Homo sapiens: one gene and its partners. The protein of the gene in region 4 interacts with the protein of the main gene of each other region in a biochemical or structural test. Each region holds a gene or a part of one and is shown on either strand. Other genes may lie near its edges.

Region 1 (3,730 bases), on a different chromosome or scaffold from region 4:
ATCAAATCTGTAACCCATCTGGCATCTGTTTAATCTGGAATCTAATTTGGGAAAGAAGTGTGATGACTATGTGGGTTTATAACAGTAATGGAAGCAAAACTGGCCATTTTATTATGATAGAAATTTTGTGTCATGTCTCCCAGACAATAAAGGCTAAGAAAATCTATTTAAATACATTGGGGTCTTTTCCCCTGAATGAACATGATTGCTGAGGGTTAAACCTTCATTAGATTGCCTCTGCTTTTTTTTTTTTTTTTTTTTTTTTTTTTTTTGTTGAGATAGTCTTGCTCTGTTGCCCAGGCTGGAATGCAGAGGTATCATCTCGGCTCACTGCAACCTCCACCTCCTGGGTTCAAGCAATTCTCCTGCCTTAGCCTCCCGAGTAGCTGAGACTACAATTGAGCACCACCACGCCCGGCTAATTTTTTGTATTTTTAGCAGAGATGGGGTTTTGCCATGTTGCCTAGGCTGGTCTCGAACTCCTGAGCTCAGGCAATCCGCCTGCCTTAGCCTCGCAAAGTGATAGGATTACAGGCTTGAGCCACTGTTCCCGGCCTTGCCCCTATACTTGATGTAGCTACAGAACTGGTTGCTCAGTGAGTGGGTTGGTTTTAGTCAGCATATTCTCTGATCCTATTTAAAATTTTTTACAAGTGGAGTGTTGCTGTAAGTTTTATAGATGTTTATGTGTAAGGACAGGTTTAGTGAATTTGCTGGATAATAATATTTACTGCTATTGAGCTCTTACCATGTGCCAGGTTAGAATTACAGGGTGAAAGTTATTTTATGCAGAAAAGGAATTAAAAGGTCAGGTTGAATTTACCTAATAATATAAAAGTTGCAGTTCATTTAGCTCTTTCCTTGAACCAAAGAAAAGGGTTTCTTAGACCCTTTATGTTGTATTTCTAATACTCATAAACATCTTTGCAGCGTAAAGCTCATAATAATTGCTGAGGATGCTGATGCGCTTCCGAGGGGCCAGATAACTGGCTCAGAGTCCTGAGGCACCAAGTATTAGTTCTAGAGCACAGGCTGGTCTGGCTCCAAAGTCAGTGTTCTTTCCACTGAACCATGCTTTGTCTCTAAATTATGCTTAGGTGCTTTTTGTTTAGGATAATTGATTCTGCTTGTCACTGGTGGCCCTCCCCTGACTCTCCCCACCGCAGCAGCTAGGATGAATTTTGCTCATTAGAACCCTAGATCAATTTGAAAGAAAGTCTGGTTAAGTAATAGTCTTTTAGATGGACCCTTGAAATAGCTTTCCAGTTTACTTTTATTTGTTATGTCAAATTAAGCTAAAACTTAAAGCTGATCCACAGGTTTGTGTGTGGGGAGGGGCTGTCTTATTAACCTTTGTGTTAAAGGAGGCCAGCTCCTAAATTACTGCTATCGTGTGTCATCAGGTTTGTTAAAAATTGCTGGCATGGTGGCCCACGCCTGTAATTCCGTCACTTTGGGAGGCCAAGGCAGGCGCATCACCTGAGGTCAGGAGTTCGAGACCAGCCTGGCCAACATGGTGAAACCCCATCTCTACTAAAAATACAAAAATTAGCTGGGTGTGGTGGTACGTGCCTGTAATCCCAGCTACCCCGGGGGCTGAGGCAGGAGAATGGCTTGAACCCGGGAGGTGGAGTTTGCAGTGACCTGACATCGTGCCGCTGCACTTCAGCCTGGGCAACAGAGCAAGACTCTGTATCCAGGGGGGGAAAAAAAAAAAAAGAACTGTAGTCCAGGTTGTTGCTAAAAAAAAAAATTCATTTCTTCTGAATTCTAACATTCTGCTTTAGTGGAAATGAGTTAACTAAGCTTCCAATTAACTTTATAGGATAGGTGCTGGTTGTCCTCTTTGCTTCCTAGCCCTTTCTAACATCCCTCTTGTGGCTAATACTGTTGGGAGTATTTAGTACAGCTTCCTGTTTGGAATTGAACTGCTTCCTGAACAATTTTGTTTTACTTTTGTTTGAAACGGTGATCTGAATCAGAAGCTTCTTTGGTATTCCACCTGGGCAGTCTTCTCTTATGGTTAGTCTTGAAAGGCTGGATCAGTGAAATTAAATCTGCCTTTGGATGTGAGCTTTTAGTGAAATGGTGTCTGAAGTTCCATTTTGTGTTTAACCTCAACTGAGGCTACCCTGTAGTCTGTAATGACATAGCATGTCTCATTAATCACTAATAGGTGTTGGAAATACCCCTTGGCATGAAGTGAGCAGATAATGCTGCTTACATTGTCACTATATTAGCTCCCTTCAGAGATGAGCTTTAGGATCTAACTAGATCTTGTCTGATTCTCTCCTATCTTTGCTGTTTTGAAATCCATGCCTTCTATAGATTACAATTAACTGAGGCATGAATTTTCTACCCTTGCAGATTCCACCCTGATTCAAATAGGGCCATTGTCTGCTGAAGCCATTGTGATTTTATGCAGAATGCTAGGCAGTCCTTTCCTCTGTCAGAAAGAACAATTTATATGTAATAATAAGTCTCATTATGCTTGGAAGCTTATTTTCCTTGTTGCACAATTGAACCAACCTGCTCATGAAAGCTCCATGACCCTTTACCTAGATGACAGTCAAATATAGTTAGGCAAATAAGTTTCCTTTTGGTTTGTCATTGAGTAAACCTTTGCAACCTGTAATGTTTAGCAAGTGACTACTTCTGTATAGTAATTTTCCTTTTAGTTGAGAATTTATTCAAGCACCAAACATAAAAAAGAATAAAAGTGAAATAAGCTTTCTTTTGCATAAGGGACTTTCTATAATTTGCTACTTTTTATCTTCTTTTTTTTTTTTTTGAGGTGGAGTTTTGCTCTTGTCGCCCAGGCTGGAGTGCAGTGGCGTGATCTCGGCTCACTGCAACCTCCACCTCCCAGGTTCAAGCGATTTTCCCACTTCAGCCTCCCGATAAGCTGAGATTACAGGTGCGTACCACCATGCCTGGCTAATTTTTTTTTTTTTTTTTTAGATGGAGTCTTGCTCTATCGCCCAGGCTGGAGTGCAGTGGCGCGATCTTGACTCACTGCAAGCTCTGCCTCCCGGGTTCACGCCATTGTCCTGCCTCAGCCTCTGGAGTAGCTGGGACTACAGGTGCCCGCCACCATGCCCAGCTAGTTGTTTTTTTTTTTTTTTTTTTAGTGGAGACGGTGTTTCACCGTGTTAGCCAGGATGATTTTGATCTCCTGACCTTGTGATCCACTCGCCTTGGCCTCCCAAAGTGCTGGGATTACAGGCGTGAGCCACCGCGCCCGGCCATGCCTGGCTAATTTTTATATTTTTATTTTATTTTATTTTTGAAGCAGAGTCTCGCTCTGTTACTCAGGCTGGAGTGCAGTGACCCAATCTCAGTTCACTGCAACCTCTGCCTCCCGGGTTCAAGTGATTGTTCAGCCTCAGCCTCCCAAGTAGCTGGGATTACAGGCATGTGCCACCATGCCAGACTAATTTTTTTTTATTTTTAGTAGAGACAGTGTTTCACCATGTTAGCCAGGCTGATCTTGAACTCCTGATCTCAGGTGATCCACCTGCCTTGGCCTCCCAAAGTGTTGGGATTACAGGTGTGAGTCACTGCGCCGGCCTAATTTTTGTATTTTTAGTAGAGATGGGATTTCACCATGTTGGCCAGCCTAGCCTCAAACTCCTGACTTCAGGTGATTGGCCCACCTTGGCCTCCCAAAGTGCTGGGATTACAGGCCTGAGCCACGGTGCCTGGTTTAGTATGCATTCTTGACTGGGGA
Region 2 (3,730 bases), on a different chromosome or scaffold from region 4:
AATCTCTACCCCAGATTTCCAAATACTACCTTTTACCAATAGTTCATTAAACTTTTTACTTTGTGTTCCATTTGGGTAGTGAATGATTAAGCCCCCCAATGTATACTGATAAGCAGTATCCATCATTATCTACATTCTGAGATTAAGGCACCAGGCTAAATCCTTTAGAAAAATTAAACAGAGATAGAAACAAAAATGAAAGCAGTCTGAGTCTCTCAACAAAGGCATGGATGCTCCACTCTAGTTCTATGAGTGGCATGCAGCAAAGGCCACACATTTCTACAGGAGAAAATCAGTTATACATAATTAGAAGCAGGCTGTTAAGAGCAATGAGAAAACAGTACCTGCAGGGATGGGGGCGGGGGTGCTGGAGTACATACCTAAAATGATAAAGTCACAGTTCAGAAGTCTTTGCAATTATTTCATGTAATTCAAGGATTCTAGTTTGGGAAAACCCCAAACACCTGAAGTTTAAGGAAATAAACTCCTGGACTGAGACTGGCCCAGTGTCTGACAAATACCCACATTCTATGAGTGCATTATGTATTACGGGGGATGAATGGGGAATGGTAAGGTAGAGGACATCTCAACTCCATCAAAAGCTCTAAGATCTCTGTCTACACACCCCACCCCTGTAGTTAACAAAATGTTTTGGGGTTCAGTAGCTGTAAGCTCTATATAAAATAACATTTTTGTCAGAAAAAAATTTTCTTATTGAAAAGACATTCCAATAGAAACTTCTTTGTTTTGGCTCTTTAACATTTCAAAATTAGGCTCTCATTTGCACTATCATGTTGCATCATCCAGAGAGTTATAAATAGGGTGGCCACATAAACCAGGGTAACTTTCAGAGCTACGGAGGCACTCCTTGGACTGCATGCTAGGATAACAGGTATAAACCAGAATTGCGCCAGGCAAACCAGGATATATGGTCACTCTAGGTACAAAAAAACCCCACTAATTACTATTTACTAAATGCTAACCCTCTCAACCATGTATATAGATAGCACTATCATTGTTCCCCATTTTACAGATGAGAAAAGGACGTCACTTGTTGAATGTCCCACAACTATTAGATGGTAGAGACTAAAGGTAAAACTGACTCCAAAAATCAGTGCTTACCTTATGTTGTACTACTACTCACAGTTTTAGGAACAGAAACGGGAAGTTAAAGGCGTCTTATGTAACAGCCAAGCAACAGTGGGACAAAAGAACTACTTGAGTGAGTCAAAGGAAAATATGGAATCAGAAAAGGAAAGGCAACTGCAATTCTGTGTGAATTTTTATTAACTGCTTACTACACAATAGGCACTGATAGTATTGACAATAATCAAAAGGAAAATTTGTGGTAAGAATTTGTCTTCAACTGGGGATTCTCAGATTTCAGGCTAGAAAAAATTCTGGTCTATGCACGTAGGTTGCCCTTCACATGACAGGAATGCTTCTGACGCACCTCATTAGCATGTGTTCTGAATTACTATTCAGTTCTAAATTATAATAAAATGTATCCAGTATAATCAGGGTTGACATTCTTTATAAAAATGCAATACTCACATTCCCAAACTTGAGAAACAGGTACGTATAAATGATTCTCCTTTATTCGCCAGTTCCTTTAAAACAACCCCAAGAGGGCATTAAAGTGCTTATTTACAGATCATTAACTACTCGGAGTGGCAGAGTACACTTGCTAGGAGTCACAGGCAACTAAAGACCTGCATGATTCCATGTATCAAAATATCCTTTATAGACAACTTTCCAAGAATACTATATTGGGGTGGGCGTGGTGGCTCTTGCCTGTAATCCCAGCACTTCGGGAGGCTGAGGTGGGAAGATCGCTTGAGCCCAGGAGTTCAAGACAAGCCTGGGCAACACAGGGATTTCCCCATCTCTATAAAAAATAAAAATAAATTTTAAAAAAGAATATTATATTGGGTAAAACACTCTGGATCCAAATGACACACTCCTGATAAAAGAAAAGGTATACATTTGTAACCTTGGCAGCAAAAGATCTAGACAACTACTGATCTAGAAATCTTCTAACAGATTTCTGTTACAAGCTAAATGTCTAAAGAAACTTGGAACAAAGTAATTTGGAAACTAGAGTGTAACTAACTAAACCAAACAAGAAAAAGAGATGTAATCAATACCTGCGGAGAAATCTTAAAAAGAGGATCTTCTTACACCCCAACTCCTGTTTTAAAGACTGCTACTACAACAGCAGCCACTCTAAGGAGAATCAAGAGATACTAATGATGTGAAGATAGGAAATGCCAACCTATGAAATCTCCTTTCAGTGATTCTGACAAGTCCTGGCGTAAATTCTATACAACTGCACCAAAAATTAACCGTAAGATAACTCTGATGACAAAAGGAGAAACCTGGATTTTACCTATCGGGTTAACACCCAAGCTGTACCCATTGGGGCTCTACTTGGTGTGCTTCCTAAGTCTCAGCTGACCCTTTTGATGAATTAGTGGCACATAGCTTCATTCAAATAAAGAATATCCTATAAACAAAAGTAGTTTCTTCTGTGCTCTTCTCCTTCCCCACATTTTGCTGATGGGTCTGACTCCACAGATCCTAGGTCAAAATGTTTAATGGATCACTCTGGAGAGTGCCTTTAATGTTCAGAAGTTCAGAGAACAGCAAATGTTCTGAAAGGCCTTCCGGAGAAACATGCTTATTGTAAGAGCTCTCCAACAAGTTGGAGATTTGGGTTTACACTATGAAAAAAGAATCAACTTGACACAGTGTCAATTTCCAAAGGTCCAAGGACAGTTACCACTCCTGTTACACAAAGTAGCAGCAAAAGAGGGATAAATAACCAGTGGTTATGGGGAACTAGATTACTTACTTGGTTTGACCGATAACTGCCAACATTAAACAAGGATCTTCTTCAGTTGTGGTACACTTAACTCTTAAAACTCAAGGATTCCTTTTCTTACCTCAAATTTTCCTAGCCATACCATCTGAAATCACCAGTGACAGTCGTGAACAAGCCTTACAATGTGAATTACACTACAGCTATTAAGACATTCCCGTGAAAAATTATTTTAGAACTCTGTGTCAGGAAAAGTCGTCCCCTTGAGGAATTGACATGTATTATTTCCCATGCCTGCTAAGGAGACTGTAACTATGATTCTTTTCATCCTCTGGCTGCTAAAAGTTTCAAGTTGCATGTGATCAACCTCATCAACTATCTTAGCCCTCGAGGTTAACAATATTTTTTTCATTCTTTCTATAGTTTTTACTTCCTTTTATATCACATATATGTTCTGTGTTATAAGCCACTTCAAATGCCCATTGAAGAAAGAATATAAATATACGAATAGACTTTTAAAAAATTACACTGCTATCTTAACTCCCCAACATGCCCCTATCTCCACCTGTTCCAAAAAAAATAGGCACTTATTTGGCAGATGAGGAGATGCAGGTACAAAAGCTAATTAATTTGCTCAAGGTCATATCCCTTTAGTTGACTTCTCGACACCCAGACATCTCAAATCTTCAATCAAACCAACAAGTCCTATTTTGTTCATAGCAGTGTGATAGACCTTGGCATACAAAACTGAGTAAGTCATGATTATAGCTGAAGAATCTAGATATTTATGCTTTTAATTGATGGACATCCACTCTATCTCAAACAAAGCAAACAAAATGAATAAAAGCTGACTCTGTCTCAAACAAAGCAAACAAAATGAATAAAAGCTGACCAGAAAGTGACACTGGG
Region 3 (3,730 bases), on a different chromosome or scaffold from region 4:
GGGAATGGGGCAAGAGGGGAGTCAGGGGTCAGGGTGGGCTGGAATGCCCTGCCCACTCCCCAGTTCCAGGCCCGCCTTCTGTTCCTCAGTCCGAGTCCCAGGATTGTGATTCGAGGCATCCTGCCCATCCCCAGCAGCAGAGAGCAACGGCAGGTGCGAGGAGCAGCTCCCAGGATCTTACCTGCCATCAAACCGATGCTTCAAGAAGTCAAATAAAGCTTTCTGCATCATGTCTGTAACCTGGGGGTGGGGGTTTGTGGGGAGGGAGGGAGGAGAAGGCAGGCATTTAAAGCCGCTCAGACTCTGAGTCGCTGGGTATTTGTACCCTCACGTTCCACTTTCTTCTGGACAGGCCTTTACGGCGGGCGGGGGTCTGAGTCTGAGGGGCCTCCACTGGGGTCTCTGGTTCCAAGGTCCCTGTAAGTGGCATCTCTGGGAGGGCTCTTCTGAGGGTTTCTTTGGGGGACGGGGCTCCTCTGAGTGGGTCTTTCTGTGGATTGGGCCCCCTGGGGGTTGTCTCTGAAAGTCTGTAGCCCTCCTGGGAGGATGCCTTGGGATCGGGCCCTTCTAGGGGATCTCTCTGGGGTCTGAAGATCTTTCTAAGGCCCCTCTGCATCCACTCCCCTCTAGGAAGTCCTACCTCGTAGCCCTTGAGCGACGGTCCCACCAGGATGATGGGCCTCATGGAAGGCACCACGTCATAGGGGGGCACATGCTCTGTCTGGGGGGGGAAGCAGGGAGGGGAAACCCCAGAGTGGAGATGACATTAGATCCTCTCCCCCAGACTCCAGGCTCCCCCATGCAGCCTTCCCCCACCCTGGTCCCAGAGCCCAGATGTAGGGATCAGGGTGGGGGTGGGGAGGGATGGCCAGGGAGAACCAGGAAGGGTGGGGGAAATGGGGGACAGATGTGGGAATGGGTGTTAGAAGGTCCCCCTAGCTCATCCCAGGGAGTGGGGAGGAGGACACAGAAAGCTGTGATACTCACCGACTTCTGCTTCTGTTTGGCTGGGTCCAGAGATTGCCAAGAGAGGGAAGGGGGAGGAGAGAGGGAAGGGGACCCAGGCAGGGGCAGAGGGCAAGGCAGGAGCCAGGACAAGAGAGGGAGGGAGAGCCGGGCAGACGAGGAGAGATAACAGGGCATGCGTGTTAGTGACAGACAGAGCCAGAGACGGGGAACGGGACCCCACGCCAAGGGGGAGCCAGAGGTGGCCCTGGATCAGGGCTGGGAGCAGGACTGACAGTCAGTCCAGTGGATGTGGGAATATTCAGACATATCCTACCCTCTTCTGGGTCTTGGAAAAGAGCTGGAGAGGGTGACAGCCCCTATCTTGTTGCCCATCTCCTGCCCCCAGTGCATGCCAACATGCCCATTTTAGGGGTTCCCTTAACTGTCTTGCTTTGCAGCCAGCAGCCCCCCCCCACTATGTGCCCACCCAGAGAGTCAAAAAAGGGCAAAGAAGGAATGCCATCCCATGTCCTGCTTCACATGCCAAGGTAGACACCAACACCAGAGCAGGCCCCTGGGAGTGAGGGGAGAGGTCAGGGTTCATGACCACCAAACCCTGCTGCCCCAGGTGTGGGGGCAACCTTCCAAGGGCAAGATCTCCTTCCTGGAGATCGGGCCAGGGTGGAGTTGTGTGTGGAGGGGGATGTGCCCATGCTACCCTTCCCTCCACCTCAGCAGGAAGCCCTGATGCCCACAGAACAGGTTGGTACCACATCTGAATCCATTACAGCCCCCTTCCCTCCACCAAAGTGCTGGCCCTGACTCCCCCACCTCTTGCAAGAACACAGCGAGAATTACCTTCTTAAAGAAGGGGATGCGTTTGCCATGGGGTGGCGGGGTGGTGACACTGCTAACACTAGTCTTGGCAGAGCCACTCTGCTCACCAAGCTCAGCCTCTTCCTCCTCTAACTCTAGGGGGTCTAGTTCAAAGGCTAAGTTAGTCATTTCATTACCTGGACCGGAGAGTCAGGAGAGAGGGAGGAGGGAGGCGAGGTGGGGAGAAGGAGTGAGATGAACGTGGAGACACAAGTACAGAACGCAGGGATGGGGATGGGGAAAAAAGAAAGAAGAAGAGGTGAATGGAACAGGGCTGGGAGAAATGAATGGGGGCAGGGCAGGGGAATCAGGCAGAGAGATGGAGCTACCAAAGAAAAGGGAGAGGAGAGACATGACAGGCCCAGCTTGAGGGGTAGCCTACTCTTCATGGAGGGGGAACCACTGCATGTGCTTGGGGGACTCAGGATTGGGGTGTTTCCTACTGCAGGGAAAGGAGGATTCAGGGAGTGGGGAGACCACCCCACCCAGGAGCTTCTTCCCAAACCCCTGCATGGCGATGGCTCTTACCACTGGCAGGGGGTGTGGGGCGGCGGGTGCCAGTCACCACATCTCCCAGACTGGAACTGGAGTTATCGCCTGATTTGCTGTGTGGGCAGAGGCAAACCGAGCTTGTGAGCAAAGAGGTGGGCGTGGGGGGCTCTCATCCTCTCACATGCGGCACCCCCGGAGGTGCTCCAGCCCCACTGGTGATGCCACAGGCAGCTCTGTGCCCTCAGGGCCAGGGACAACCATTGAGGCCTAGTCCAGGCTGTATGGCCTCTCCTGGGGTTGGCAGCATCCCCTTCCCCTGCCCCACCCAGACACCTGGAGCCGAGGCGGTTCTGGCGCAGCTTCTGTTCCTGCAGCAGGCGAAGGCTGTCCAGTTTGACGGGGCTGGGAATGAAGCCAACCTCACAGCCCTCCTTCACCAGCCGCCCGATCCACCAGTCATTATTGTATTTCTGCAAAGAATATGGCAGGTGGGTGGAAAGAGCAAGAGGGAAACTGCAGGGGCAAGCTAGCAGTCACTCTCTAGGGGAAACGCCCAGACTCACCTCCCAGCCCAGGGGTGGCACCCTCAAAAATCCCCAGCCCTGGCTCCAGCCTCTGAGTGGAGCTGCCAATTCTCAGGACAACTCCAGGACCAGCATGCTTTCTGGCCATGGACCACCCTGCCACCGGCCCAATGCAATTCTGAGAGTCCTTCTCCCCATGTGCCCACCCTACTCTACAAAGGCCGCTGGAGTAAATGCGGATACCTACATGTCCCTGGCACACCGCCATGCCAGTTCAGGCCCCCTAACAAACCCTCCCAACAACCTTCTGACCTAAGCATTACCACCTCATTTTTCCAGTAGAAAATTAAGAGGCTCAGAGAGGTGGAGAGATTTGTCTAAGGTCACACAGCAGATTCAGCCTGGCTCTGCTTGGCTCAGAAGCCTTTTGTCCACTAGCACTCTGGCTGCCTGTCTCCTGGCACCCACTTCCCTGCCCTCCCTCCAGATACCCACCTCCTTGATGTGCAGGAAGTCTTTGGGCTCGAAGGTGATGGCCACTCCCTGCACAGGCACCTCATCCCCTGGAGACGGATTGTAGCCAACATTTGTCCGCACAGCAAATGCCACTGGCTTGGTCTAGAGGAGGCACACAGGGGAGGATGGCAACTAGAGGGCAAACCACAATGTAATGTACAACTTCCTGACAGTAGTGGTGGTTACTTGGATGTTTACTTTATAATAGTTCCTTGAAATGTGTATGGACATGGGCAGGGTGTGGTGGCTCACACCTGTATTTCCAGCACGTTGGGAGGCCAAGGTACGTGGATCATCTGAGGTCAGGAGTCCGAGACCAGCCTGAACAACATGGTGAAACCCCGTCTCTACTAAAAATACAAAATTAGCCAGGC
Region 4 (3,730 bases):
CTCGCTCTGTCGCCCAGGCTGGAGTGCAGTTGGCGCGATCTCGGCTCACTGCAAGCTCTGCCTCCCGGGTTCATGCCATTCTCCTGCCTCAGCCTCCCGAGTAGCTGGGACTACAGGCGCCCGCCACCATACCCGGCTAATTTTTTGTATTTTTTTTTTTTTTTAGTAGACACAGGGTTTCACCGTGTTAGCCAGGATGGTCTCGATCTCCTGACCTTGTGATCCGTCTGCCTCAGCCTCCCAAAGTGCTGGGATTACAGGGGTGAGCCACCGCGCCTTGCCGTTTTTTGTTTTTTGTTTGTTTGTTTGTTTTTTGAGACAGAGTCTGGCTCTGTCATCCAGGCTGGAGTGCAGTGGCACAATCTCAGCTCACTGCAACCTCCACCTCCTGGGTTCAAGCGATTCTCCTGCCTCAGCCTCCCGAGTAGCTGGGACTACAGGCATGCACCATGACACTGGCCAATTTTTGTATTTTTAGTAGAGACTGGGTTTTACCATGTTGGCCAGTCTGGTTCTCAAACTCCTGACCTCAGGTGATCCACCCACCTCGGCCTCCCAAAGTGCTGGGATTACACGCGTGAGCCACCATGCCCAGCCTTAATTTTTGTATTTTTAATAGAGACAGGTTTCACTATGTTGGCCAGGCTGGTCTCGAACTCCTGACCTCAAATGATCCGCCCTCCTTGGCCTCCCAAAGTGCTGGGATTACAGGCATGAGCCACCGTGCCTGGGCTGTTTTGTTTTGTTTTTATTTAGAGAAAATCCCGTTTGCTTACTTGCTTTTTTTTTTTTGCTAAATAAACAGAATTATTCTGTCTCCTAAAAAACACCTGAGACTGTAATTGTAAATAGATATATATGTTTAGATAAACCTATTGAATTATTGAGAGACAAGAATATCATGATATACAACCTTTTTATTGTTTTTGGATGAGACTGTTGTAGGCTCAATCTAAATCATTAATCTTACTCACTTTTTTTAATAACATGAATTCAGTAATACTATGTGGCTGATTTGACTATTAAGATTTTCTTCTGTTGAATTGATTGTATAAAAGAAACTTTTTATTGATAAAAGGTATATAGATGTTGAAAAATGTGATGTTAAAAATGCCTTTTCTTACCATTGTTTCTCATCCTGGTTTTTCTGATTGTATTTCCCCTGTTTCTTCCAGGAGGTTATCATCTTGTGAAAATTGGAGATCTATTCAATGGGAGATACCATGTGATCCGAAAGTTAGGCTGGGGACACTTTTCAACAGTATGGTTATCATGGGATATTCAGTAAGTTTTAGTGGTTCTGTAAAAGAATTAGTTAGATGATGTCTAAATGTGTTTGTCTGAGTTTCCACTGCTGATCCAGGCTTCAATCTATCTCTAGCCTGATTCATTTATCAGAATTTTGTTGTTGGCAATAGTCTCTGTATTCTTGGAGAAACCACTTTTCTTTCGTGAAGAATCAGTATTATATATCTCCCTTTCTACTATAGAGACAGGAGTGATTAAATTAATGCTGGTAAAGCTTTTGTCGTTTGATTTTTTTGTGATTTTTATCATTTTCTTTTCACCGAAGTATTTCTTCTGGCTGCCTATGGGAAAATATTACAGCTTTTAACCTTTTAGTTTTTGCCTATATACAGATATATACACAGAACACTTGGAATTTGGTAATATCTTTCCCCTTATTTATCCTCATTTTGCAGTTTTGCTTGTAACTCAGGGAGATATTCAAAAGAAGGATTTTAACTCAGAGAAAATGTTCAACAACTGAGATTATCTGAGAACAGATTTTTTATTCTTCCTATAAATGAAATCTGGCCAGTTAGTGTCATTAACAAGTATAAATGTTCCCATAGAAGTAGCTTGTTTGGGCTACAGGGAAACGTGAAATCAATATTTGTCCTTTTTAACCATCTTATAGCTAAATCTTAGCTTCCTAAAGTAAGGGTAGGCTATGTAGTCTTAATTGCCTGTGTTTGTTTCTTAGGGGGAAGAAATTTGTGGCAATGAAAGTAGTTAAAAGTGCTGAACATTACACTGAAACAGCACTAGATGAAATCCGGTTGCTGAAGTCAGTGAGTATTAGATTATATGTATGAATGTGAAGAATTATAAATAAATCAAGTTTCATTGAATAAAAACACACCAAGTGGAGGCTCTTTAGCATGGATAATTTTCTCTATAAAGTTCTAGTAACCTTAAAGAGGTAAAGGAAGACAACAATATTTACACATACCATGCATGTAGTAGGGAACTGGTGGCAAATGCTATGATGAGAATTCTTCTTACACGCATGAACCAAAAAAAAACCTTTCAAATGAATAAAAATATTCACTGAGCATGTTTTACAGGCCAGGTAGCTACTGTCATAATGTTTTTTTTTCCTACTATGGTTAAAAGGAAAGTTGTGTAAATAAATGTATAGCATCTTTTTTGTTGTTTTTCAAATATGTTATAGAATACATAATATAAAAATACTGTATTTACTGATTCCATTTATACCTGGAAACTGAGATAAATTCTATCAAAAATGTATTTTTAGTTCTGTTTTAAATTAGGAATATGCCAGTGTGGTAGAAGGAACTTAAATTCAGAATTAGAAAACCTGGGTTTAGGTCGCCTTTACCCCGGTATGTCCTCCATGTTACCATTTTTTTCTTTCTGAGTCTCAGATTTTTTATTCATAAAGTGAGAATGTTGCACCAGGAGATTTCTATGGCAGTAGTTTTCTTTTTTATTTTCAACTCCTGGCCTCAAGTGATCTGCCTTAGCCTCCAGAGTAGCTGGGGTTACAGGCACAAGCCACTGCATCTGGCTTAAGACAGTACTTTTCAGAATGTCCGTTTGTGACAAGATAAGGAGCCTTGTACCTACCCAAAAGTAAATCAACATACTGTTTTCTTCATTGAGAAAGTTTTTCCATGAAAAAAAAAATGTCCGCTGAAAAAAACAGTGTGGTTAGTGCTGTAGTTGATTTGCATCCTGCAAAATCTTCTTAGTTCCTCATAGCCTGGTAATCATCAGTTAATTTGGAGGCCACACTTTGATTGATATCAGGGAGCAAAATAGTTTAATTAGAAAAATAGTTCCTGTTGGTTGTATTTCCTCTTATGAATTGACTATTTAAGATTTTTCTCCATTAAAGCTATTGAAATTTTAGTATATTTTAAAAATAGATTTATGTGAGCTCTTTCTTGTAGTTAATTTGCTGTAAGTATTCTTCCCCTACCATCTGGTTTATTTCCATGCTTTACCTTGTGCTAAACACTGTCTCTTCCCCACTACAGGTTCGCAATTCAGACCCTAATGATCCAAATAGAGAAATGGTTGTTCAACTACTAGATGACTTTAAAATATCAGGAGTTAATGGAACACGTATCCTTTTAAAAACCTATTTGAGAATAAATCATCCCAATCCCAAAGAAAGGAACTAGATTTGTTGTGTAGATGGCCTTGGTGTCTTTTCTAAGGCAAACTATAATAAAATTACCTCTTTTATTGTACACTTCTGAACACACATCTGAATTTTGTCTAATTTTGTGTGGTGTGATTTTTCAGAATATTGCTTTAAGCTTCTTGTCCTCTTTTCAGGCAAATTAAAGCGAAATCAAAGGAAACTTTTAGAAAATGCGTTGTATCACTAAGTAAAGAGTCTATGATTTTTGTCAGTTAGCACAGAAACTTTAAGGGAAGTAATTTCTTATGAAAAATACTGAGTAGGCCGGGCACG

What was found. Proteins that work in one complex are often made in the same cells at the same time.
Region 1: of the proteins of SRPK1 (region 4) and STAU1, one has a biochemical effect on the other in vitro, tested with the Homo sapiens proteins (one large-scale study listed by BioGRID and IntAct).
Region 2: of the proteins of SRPK1 (region 4) and AHCYL1, one has a biochemical effect on the other in vitro, tested with the Homo sapiens proteins (one large-scale study listed by BioGRID and IntAct).
Region 3: of the proteins of SRPK1 (region 4) and CACNB1, one has a biochemical effect on the other in vitro, tested with the Homo sapiens proteins (one large-scale study listed by BioGRID).

Annotation. Positions count from the first base shown.
Region 1 is NC_000020.11:49,178,309-49,182,038, reverse strand, and holds part of STAU1 (double-stranded RNA-binding protein Staufen homolog 1), read left to right. Parts: intron 1-2,794; exon of another isoform or gene 2,795-3,730. UniProt on the Homo sapiens protein: Binds double-stranded RNA (regardless of the sequence) and tubulin.
Region 2 is NC_000001.11:109,987,561-109,991,290, reverse strand, and holds part of AHCYL1 (S-adenosylhomocysteine hydrolase-like protein 1), read right to left. Parts: intron 1-3,730. UniProt on the Homo sapiens protein: Multifaceted cellular regulator which coordinates several essential cellular functions including regulation of epithelial HCO3(-) and fluid secretion, mRNA processing and DNA replication.
Region 3 is NC_000017.11:39,184,144-39,187,873, forward strand, and holds part of CACNB1 (voltage-dependent L-type calcium channel subunit beta-1), read right to left. Parts: intron 3,459-3,730; coding exon 3,336-3,458; intron 2,787-3,335; coding exon 2,650-2,786; intron 2,430-2,649; coding exon 2,353-2,429; intron 1,962-2,352; coding exon of another isoform or gene 1,807-1,961; intron 1,008-1,806; coding exon 988-1,007; intron 722-987; coding exon 641-721; intron 241-640; coding exon 182-240; exon of another isoform or gene 90-181; intron 1-89. UniProt on the Homo sapiens protein: Regulatory subunit of L-type calcium channels. Regulates the activity of L-type calcium channels that contain CACNA1A as pore-forming subunit.
Region 4 is NC_000006.12:35,886,369-35,890,098, reverse strand, and holds part of SRPK1 (SRSF protein kinase 1), read left to right. Parts: intron 1-1,175; coding exon 1,176-1,284; intron 1,285-1,987; coding exon 1,988-2,075; intron 2,076-3,287; coding exon 3,288-3,375; intron 3,376-3,730. UniProt on the Homo sapiens protein: Serine/arginine-rich protein-specific kinase which specifically phosphorylates its substrates at serine residues located in regions rich in arginine/serine dipeptides, known as RS domains and is involved in the phosphorylation of SR splicing factors and the regulation of splicing.